Linked DNA regions of Homo sapiens. The protein of the gene in region 1 purifies or fractionates together with the protein of each later gene. This does not show direct contact. Each region holds a gene or a part of one and is shown in the gene's direction. Other genes may lie near its edges.

The links.
Region 2: the proteins of SLC12A2 (region 1) and OXSR1 purify together in Homo sapiens (pull-down; one study listed by IntAct). This does not show direct contact.

Annotation. Positions count from the first base shown.
Region 1 is NC_000005.10:128,181,129-128,184,785, forward strand, and holds part of SLC12A2 (solute carrier family 12 member 2), read left to right. Parts: intron 1-1,726; coding exon 1,727-1,813; intron 1,814-3,237; coding exon 3,238-3,373; intron 3,374-3,594; exon of another isoform or gene 3,595-3,657. UniProt on the Homo sapiens protein: Cation-chloride cotransporter which mediates the electroneutral transport of chloride, potassium and/or sodium ions across the membrane. Plays a vital role in the regulation of ionic balance and cell volume.
Region 2 is NC_000003.12:38,224,525-38,228,181, forward strand, and holds part of OXSR1 (serine/threonine-protein kinase OSR1), read left to right. Parts: intron 1-46; coding exon 47-180; intron 181-3,657. UniProt on the Homo sapiens protein: Effector serine/threonine-protein kinase component of the WNK-SPAK/OSR1 kinase cascade, which is involved in various processes, such as ion transport, response to hypertonic stress and blood pressure.

The DNA of each region.
Region 1 (3,657 bases):
TTAAATATAACCTTGTTCTCTTTAGTCTTCATGTTTAACTAGTAAATACTTAATTTTACTTAGATATAATTTTTTTTAACATACTAGCATTTTAGAAGGTCCTTCTTAAATACTTGTAACATTAAAGTGTTAAGCAACTTCTTTCTTTTAATCAGGGAGAAAATGCACAAACGTTACATATTTATATATGAGATAAATTTTGTTGTAGACTTCTAGACAACAAAATGCAGGATGCCATTGTCATCCATCCAATTCTTTCCATCTATACTGTCACGATTCTAGTTCTTGTTTCAGTATTTCTCTCCTGCTCTCTAAGTACTCTTGTTTTGTCTTTGACCTGTAACATGTATATTGTACAGAGTACATAATATGCATAATCTTCAACCTAATTAATATGTATATTGTACACATTATGGGTCAAAGGTAAGACATGGGTACTCAGAAGCATTGAAACCCAGTTTTATTTTTCAGAAAGCAGAGTTTTGACCATATGATTCCTCTACCCAAAATAGTTAAACGACTTCTCTGCTACCTGCCATAGAAAATCTAATTGTTATAATGTAGCAGTCAAGGCCCTTGACAGTCTGTCCTCTCATTCCCTTTCTATTCTTCTGTTTCCCCCAGTGTTTCAGTACACTTTTCCCTATGCTCTAAACATGCATGTGACTTCAGGCTTTTACTCCTTTGCCTCCTCTCATCTCTCTCCTGTAAATAGCTCTTCACTTGCCTCTCCTTTTATCTCTTTAAATACTGCATTCTTTAAAACCCAGCTCAGTTCTTCATAGTGCCTTTCCTATTTTCCCCCCACTTACCCCCCCATCTAGTTGTTATGTTTCCTTCTGGAATCACAATATACTTTTATACCTACCACTCATCACATTATGGCTGGTATTATATTTATTGTCTTATTTAAGTTTTGTGGGCCCTGTTTAGCATGTTTTATAGTAGCCACTTAATTGATAGATCCTGGAATTCAACTGTTTATTCATTTCAAATAGTGAATTATGCAAGAAATACTAATAATAAATTTAATAGTCAAACCTATAGCAGATCTGTTTTCTCATATCTCAATTTAAAAACATTTTTATTACAAATAAAATTGCATTTTGTTAATTGCTTTTTGTATATATGTGCACTTCACCTGTTCTGTTGTTGCCACCAATGTTTCATTGCCAGCTAAGCCTTCAGAAAGGTATTTACTGGAAAATCAGGCTTGTTGATGATCCTTTTCTACATCCTGTCCCAGTTCCTTCTTTCCCCAAAATGCTATGAACTTAATCTGCCATCAACTATATCTTCAGTATGGCCCACAGGTCATATTTGGGCCCTGAGATAAGTGTTCTTGGATGGAAGAATAATCCAAAAATAATTAAATATTTGTCTACTAGTTTTTACTGAAATTTATGTACTTATCAATATAGTTTGACTAAAATTAACTTAAGAAACATTAGCTTCCATTTAAATTTTATTATTAATGTCTTTGTCCATTACTCAGTGCTAAGGAGAGATTCAGAGAAAGTAAAATACTCAGTGATTACTCAGAAAGTAAAGTACTCAGTGAATTTAAGTCTACTTTGTGAATGAATGGTGTGAATTAATTCAAATGGATATTGTTTAGCATATGATAGACTGACTTTTTCTATAAATCATGCTTTTTAGATATATGGATTCAGCCCAATATAGAATGAAAATACTTGTATCTTAATTCTATTTATTTTTGTTGTAGGATGGCTACTTTGCTTAGCAAGTTCCGGATAGACTTTTCTGATATCATGGTTCTAGGAGATATCAATACCAAACCAAAGAAAGAAAAGTAAGTTACTCTACAAATTTCTGATCCCTTTATAGATGGCCTACTCAGACACAGATTCAACTTAATTAAAACCCAGAGATTTTTTTCCTGTTGTTAGTTACATGTGAAGTCAATATTTTAAAAAATCTAGCATTGATAGTTGGCATGCATATATCAGATATTAAAGAAAGTCTAAAGAGTTTTCAATATTCAGAGAGGATTTAAATTACAGCTTTACATGTGATTTCTGAAAGGTGGTTCATTTCCATTGCCCCTGCCTACAGTCGTTATAACCACTCAGTCCCTGCTCTACATACCTATTACTTTCCACTGTTTTGTTTTATTGCTAAAATAGGAAAATCTAAACATTTGCCTGCAATAGTTGCATTCAGAATTCTTCTAGCAAAGACTTTGGAATATTCCACCTGAAAATGGTATATACAGGTTGTTATAATGATATTTGTATTTATTTTACCTGATATAATTTTAATTCTTAGATTAATGTTGAATCAATATGAAGCTGATATAAAGAATTCCTTTTAGATAGAAAATAGTAAGGTACAATTTGTAAGGTTGTAATCAGGGTGAGATTGCTTTTATTGTAACACAGTGTATACTGGGTGTTTCATACTAGATTTGATACTGAAAAATATTTTTCATGTTCATAGAGGATTAGAATGCCATTCATGTTATTTTACTGTTAAATATCTTTGGATGTAGAAATTAATTTTGCATTTCCTTAAATTTTTAGTGTCTGCCCTTTTCCCCTTCAAAATGTTCTAGTACATTTTTTTACATCACTTTTATTCATTGATAACTGGGAAAGCCTTTGGGTGTTTTGAGCAGAGTAGTAACACAATTTGACTTATTGCTCAAAGGGATCATGTTAGCTACTATGGTAAAATTTATTTAGGCTGAGAGAAAATGGCCATAAGGGGAGGCGGGGTAGATAACAGTGAGATCAGCTTTAGCAGTTAAAAATGCAATTTATTACAGGTTGGAGATTCCTTATCCCAAATGCTTGGGATCAACCAAAAGTGTTTCAGATTTCAGATTTTTTTTTAAATTTTGGAATATTTTCATTATACCTGCTGGTTTAGCATTCCTAATCCAAAAATCAGAAATTTAAAATGTTCCACTGAGCATTTCCATTAGACATCGTATTGGTGCTTAGAAAGTTTTAGATTTTGAAGCATTTTGGATTTCAGATTAGGGATGCACAATCTGTATTGTCTATATGGGTTCTAATTTTCTCATCAGTTTGAGAGACTAGAAATTGCTGTTTTTGAAATAAATTGCCAAACTGATTATTATGGTTGGGGTATGGAGAGGAGCGTAATAAATGAGAGGCACTAACTTTGCAAGTTACAATTTAATATTTAAGATCTTCCTGTTATGTAACTTAAAATAAGATTAGTTGTCAGTATTCTTTCTGTTTTTTAAAGTATTATAGCTTTTGAGGAAATCATTGAGCCATACAGACTTCATGAAGATGATAAAGAGCAAGATATTGCAGATAAAATGAAAGAAGATGAACCATGGCGAATAACAGATAATGAGCTTGAACTTTATAAGACCAAGGTATTCTCTTCTGCTTCCTTTTCATTAATCTTTTATATAATAAAAGACATGAAAACCAAGAACTTTAATTTGATATAGGAGGGTCAGTTGTATAAATGAACTCTACTTTAAAATAGATTTATTTGAGGTTAGTGGAAAGCATTTTTAAAAAAAATAAAAATAGAGAACAGATATTTTTATTACACGAAAATTCATTTCAGTTTCTTTTTGTCTCCTTATAGTTTTATGAACCATGCTAAATTCTTATTTCCACATGGTCTAGGAATGACTGTCCTGTTTCATTT
Region 2 (3,657 bases), on another chromosome or scaffold:
TTTACTGAGTCATCACAAGTTTATAGTATATTGAAAATTCTTGCAGGTTTTAATGCTGACACTGCAGAACGATCCTCCTTCTTTGGAAACTGGTGTTCAAGATAAAGAAATGCTGAAAAAATATGGAAAATCATTTAGAAAAATGATTTCATTGTGCCTTCAAAAAGATCCAGAAAAAAGGTAAAATATGAGAAAAAGTCTACTTTTCTCTCTAATAAAACATTGTGAGAAGTCTAAGAATCACATACTCATATGTACAGGAAATTATTTTCAAAAGAACTAAATATAAACTTTAAAAAAGTATACAGAGACCATTATACTGGATTGGAAATGAATTGATTTCTGCCTTCTTTGTAGTATACAGTGTACCCTAAATAGTTCAGCTTTTTCCTTGTTAATTTCTTACAAAGTTGTACATTGTGAATTCTGTATTAATAAATGCCAAGTTAGTGGAGAGATTTGTTTTTAATTTGCATTTAAAATTTATAAATGAATGTCTTAATGCCATTTACAGTATTAATAAAGGAAAGACACATAGAAAATTTATATTTAGTGTAATAATCATACTTATTTCCATGTTAGAAAGATATTTTAGTAAGTGGACCAAAAATTCAAATAGCTTCCTTATCAATGTTAGACAGATTGAATGACAAGTGAGCAAATAAATAAGAACATCCGATATGTGTAACTTCATGAATTAAGCAGAATCGTAGAATGTTGGGGATCATTGAGTACAACCTTTTATTTTTGAGGTCACTTGATACTTAGTCATAGGAGTAGGACTTGAATCTCAAAGTCCTGATTCCTAACTTAGGGCTCTGTTCCTTCTGAATCTTATCTGTCTGTTTCACATATATATTCCACTCAGCTTCTTAGCACTGAGTTCTTTAATTTTTGTTTCTCTAAAGATCATTAAAAGGGAAAGACTTTGATGTTCTTGATCACATCTCTAGTGTATGTAATAGGGTTTCAGAATTTATTGTTGGAAATATTGGAAAGGGTAAGAAAAACAGGTAGCAAAATTTATACCTGTGTTTTTATAATTTTTTTTTTTCTGTTTCTGAGTAAACAGTTAAAAAAGACAGGAAACACTTTTCTTTTATCAAATTAGTTGGTTAAAGGAACAAAATTATCCTGTTACAAATACCTAGAAATGCCAGATAAAATCTATCCAACTTAAAGATTCTCAGATGCCAGAAATAATGAGGAAGCCCTAAGTTAAAGAAGAAATATTGTGAACTAATCCCATGGCTGTTTTCAGTGGGTCACTATTCATTCTGGTAACCTACTGATTTGGATTTATAACTCCCATGTGAAAACTGGAAGTGAGATCTTGGGTCCACCCAGTGGGGAGTTTGAACTGAGATTCTTCTTAAAGCTAAGAACTTCAGATGTCAGTATCCTTAGTAAAAGGATAGACAAGAATAAAAATTGTCATCACCAAGAGACAACAAAAACCTCTCCTGAATAATCAAGCCCTTCAACCTGGACATTCCACAGGTTTAGAGTCTATACTCCCTATGTTATCCAGGAACCCACAGGATTAGAAAGTTAAAAAAGCTTTACCAAATCAGTTTTTATTTTTGACGGAAGTAGTCACAGAGCTGCACTGGAAGAACACTTTCAAACTCTAGCTCCCATTGGATTCCTGAACATAATGCCCCACTGTAATAAGGTCACAATCCAAAATTAAGAAACACACAGTGAAACAATGCATTATGAACTAGTTAGCAGACACAAGCAGAAGGATTAGTGCTCCAGAAGATTTAGGTAATGCAGTGAAAATCTGAAAAGATACAAAATTAAGTATATTGAAAATAATTAAAATTAGAAGAAATCAGACCCACAAGAGAAGACTGTGACTATGACAGAAGAACCAAATAGCAATGCCAGAAATGAAAAATACAGTGATTAATGTTTAAAACTTTCCATGAGTGTGAGCTGGACTTGTTGACTCACTTCTGATGAGTAGAGTATGAAAAAGGAAAAATAGCAACTTTACAATGCACCTCCTCTACCCAATGACCAAGGTTAACATCACTATTAATAATACATTGATAAGACTGATATGTGCCTCTTGATATGGTGCAATGAGAAGGGCATATATATAACCTGTGAGGTATTCTTCCTCCAAATCCGTAACTTCGGTCTATAATGAGAAAACATCAGACAAACCCAAATCGAGGAATATGCAGCAAGATACCTGACCAGCACTCTTCAAAACTGTCAAGGAAGAGAGACTAAGAAACTGTCACAGATTGGAGGAAATTAAGAAGACGTGAAGACGGAAAGCAAGAGTATCCTATACTAGATCCTGGGACAGAAAAAGGACATTAGTGGAAAAACTGGAGAAATGGAATGAAGTCTGTAGTTTAGTTAATAGTATTGTACCAGTGTTGATATTTTAGTTGATTTCTTTATTATTATACTGTGGTTATGTAAAAGGTTCACAATAGCAGAAGGTGGTGAATGGCATGTAGGAACTCTGTACTAGCTTTGCAGCTCTTCTGTAAGTCTAAAATTATTATAAAACTTTAAGAAAACTGGAAGCTATAGAAAATCTATTCCAGTTTGTAAACCAAAATTAAACTTTGTTTAGAACATTGCTAAGTTAAAATAACACGCACAATGGACTGGTTAAACAGAACAACCAATAAAACAAAAAAGAGATTATTTACTCATCAAGTACCAGGCACTGTGGTAAACACTTAACATATATTGTTTAATTCTCACAGTAATCCTTTGAGGATAGCACTGTTATTTTCTTTATTTTACAAATGAAGAAACTGAATCACAGAGAGGTTAAGTAACCTTCTCCAAAGTCACACAGCTAATAAATGGTGGAATCAGAATTCTGACCCATGCAATTGGACTAGAGTTAACCTGTTTTAATCAGACTACACTATACTGAGGAAATTGCTCAGAATGTGGCACAGAAAGATCAAAGAGGGAATATGAAAGAAATATTAACATTTGGAGGGTAGACTGAGAAGGTTCAGTATGTTTGTGTGTATGCACATCCACACACACACACACACACACACACACACACACACACACACAAATGTACGTATACATATACATGAACTTACCAGGAAAGACTAGAGAGAGTATAGGAGAAGCGATATTCAAAGAAATAATGGCTGAGAATTTTCGAGAGTTGATGAAAGACCTATATTCTCAGAGTAAAGAACCATCCCCCCAGAATTCCAAGCAGTGTCCCCCTTCTTCCACTTGTACAAGTTGCTGTGAAACTACTGGACACGAAGCAAAGACAAACTCCTACAGGCAACCTCGGGGAACAGATTACCTACTGAGGATTAGCAGGTAGACTTGACAGCTACTTCCCCAATAACACAACAGTTGAGGCCAGCGTTTAGTGAAATGCTCAGAGAAAATGCAGTCATGTGTCACTTAAAATGATGAGGATACATTCTGTAATATGTGTATTAGGCAGTTTTGTCATTGTTTGAACATCGTGGAGTGTACTTACACAAACTTTGATGGTACAGCCTACTGCATGCCTAGGCTATTTAGTGTAGCCTGTTGCTCTGACTACTGTCAGATACACAGTATATTGTTGGCCAAAGCATTAAGAGGCTCATGACTGTGACTTTAACCCAGAGTTCTCCAGCTAGTCAGACTATCATTCAAGAA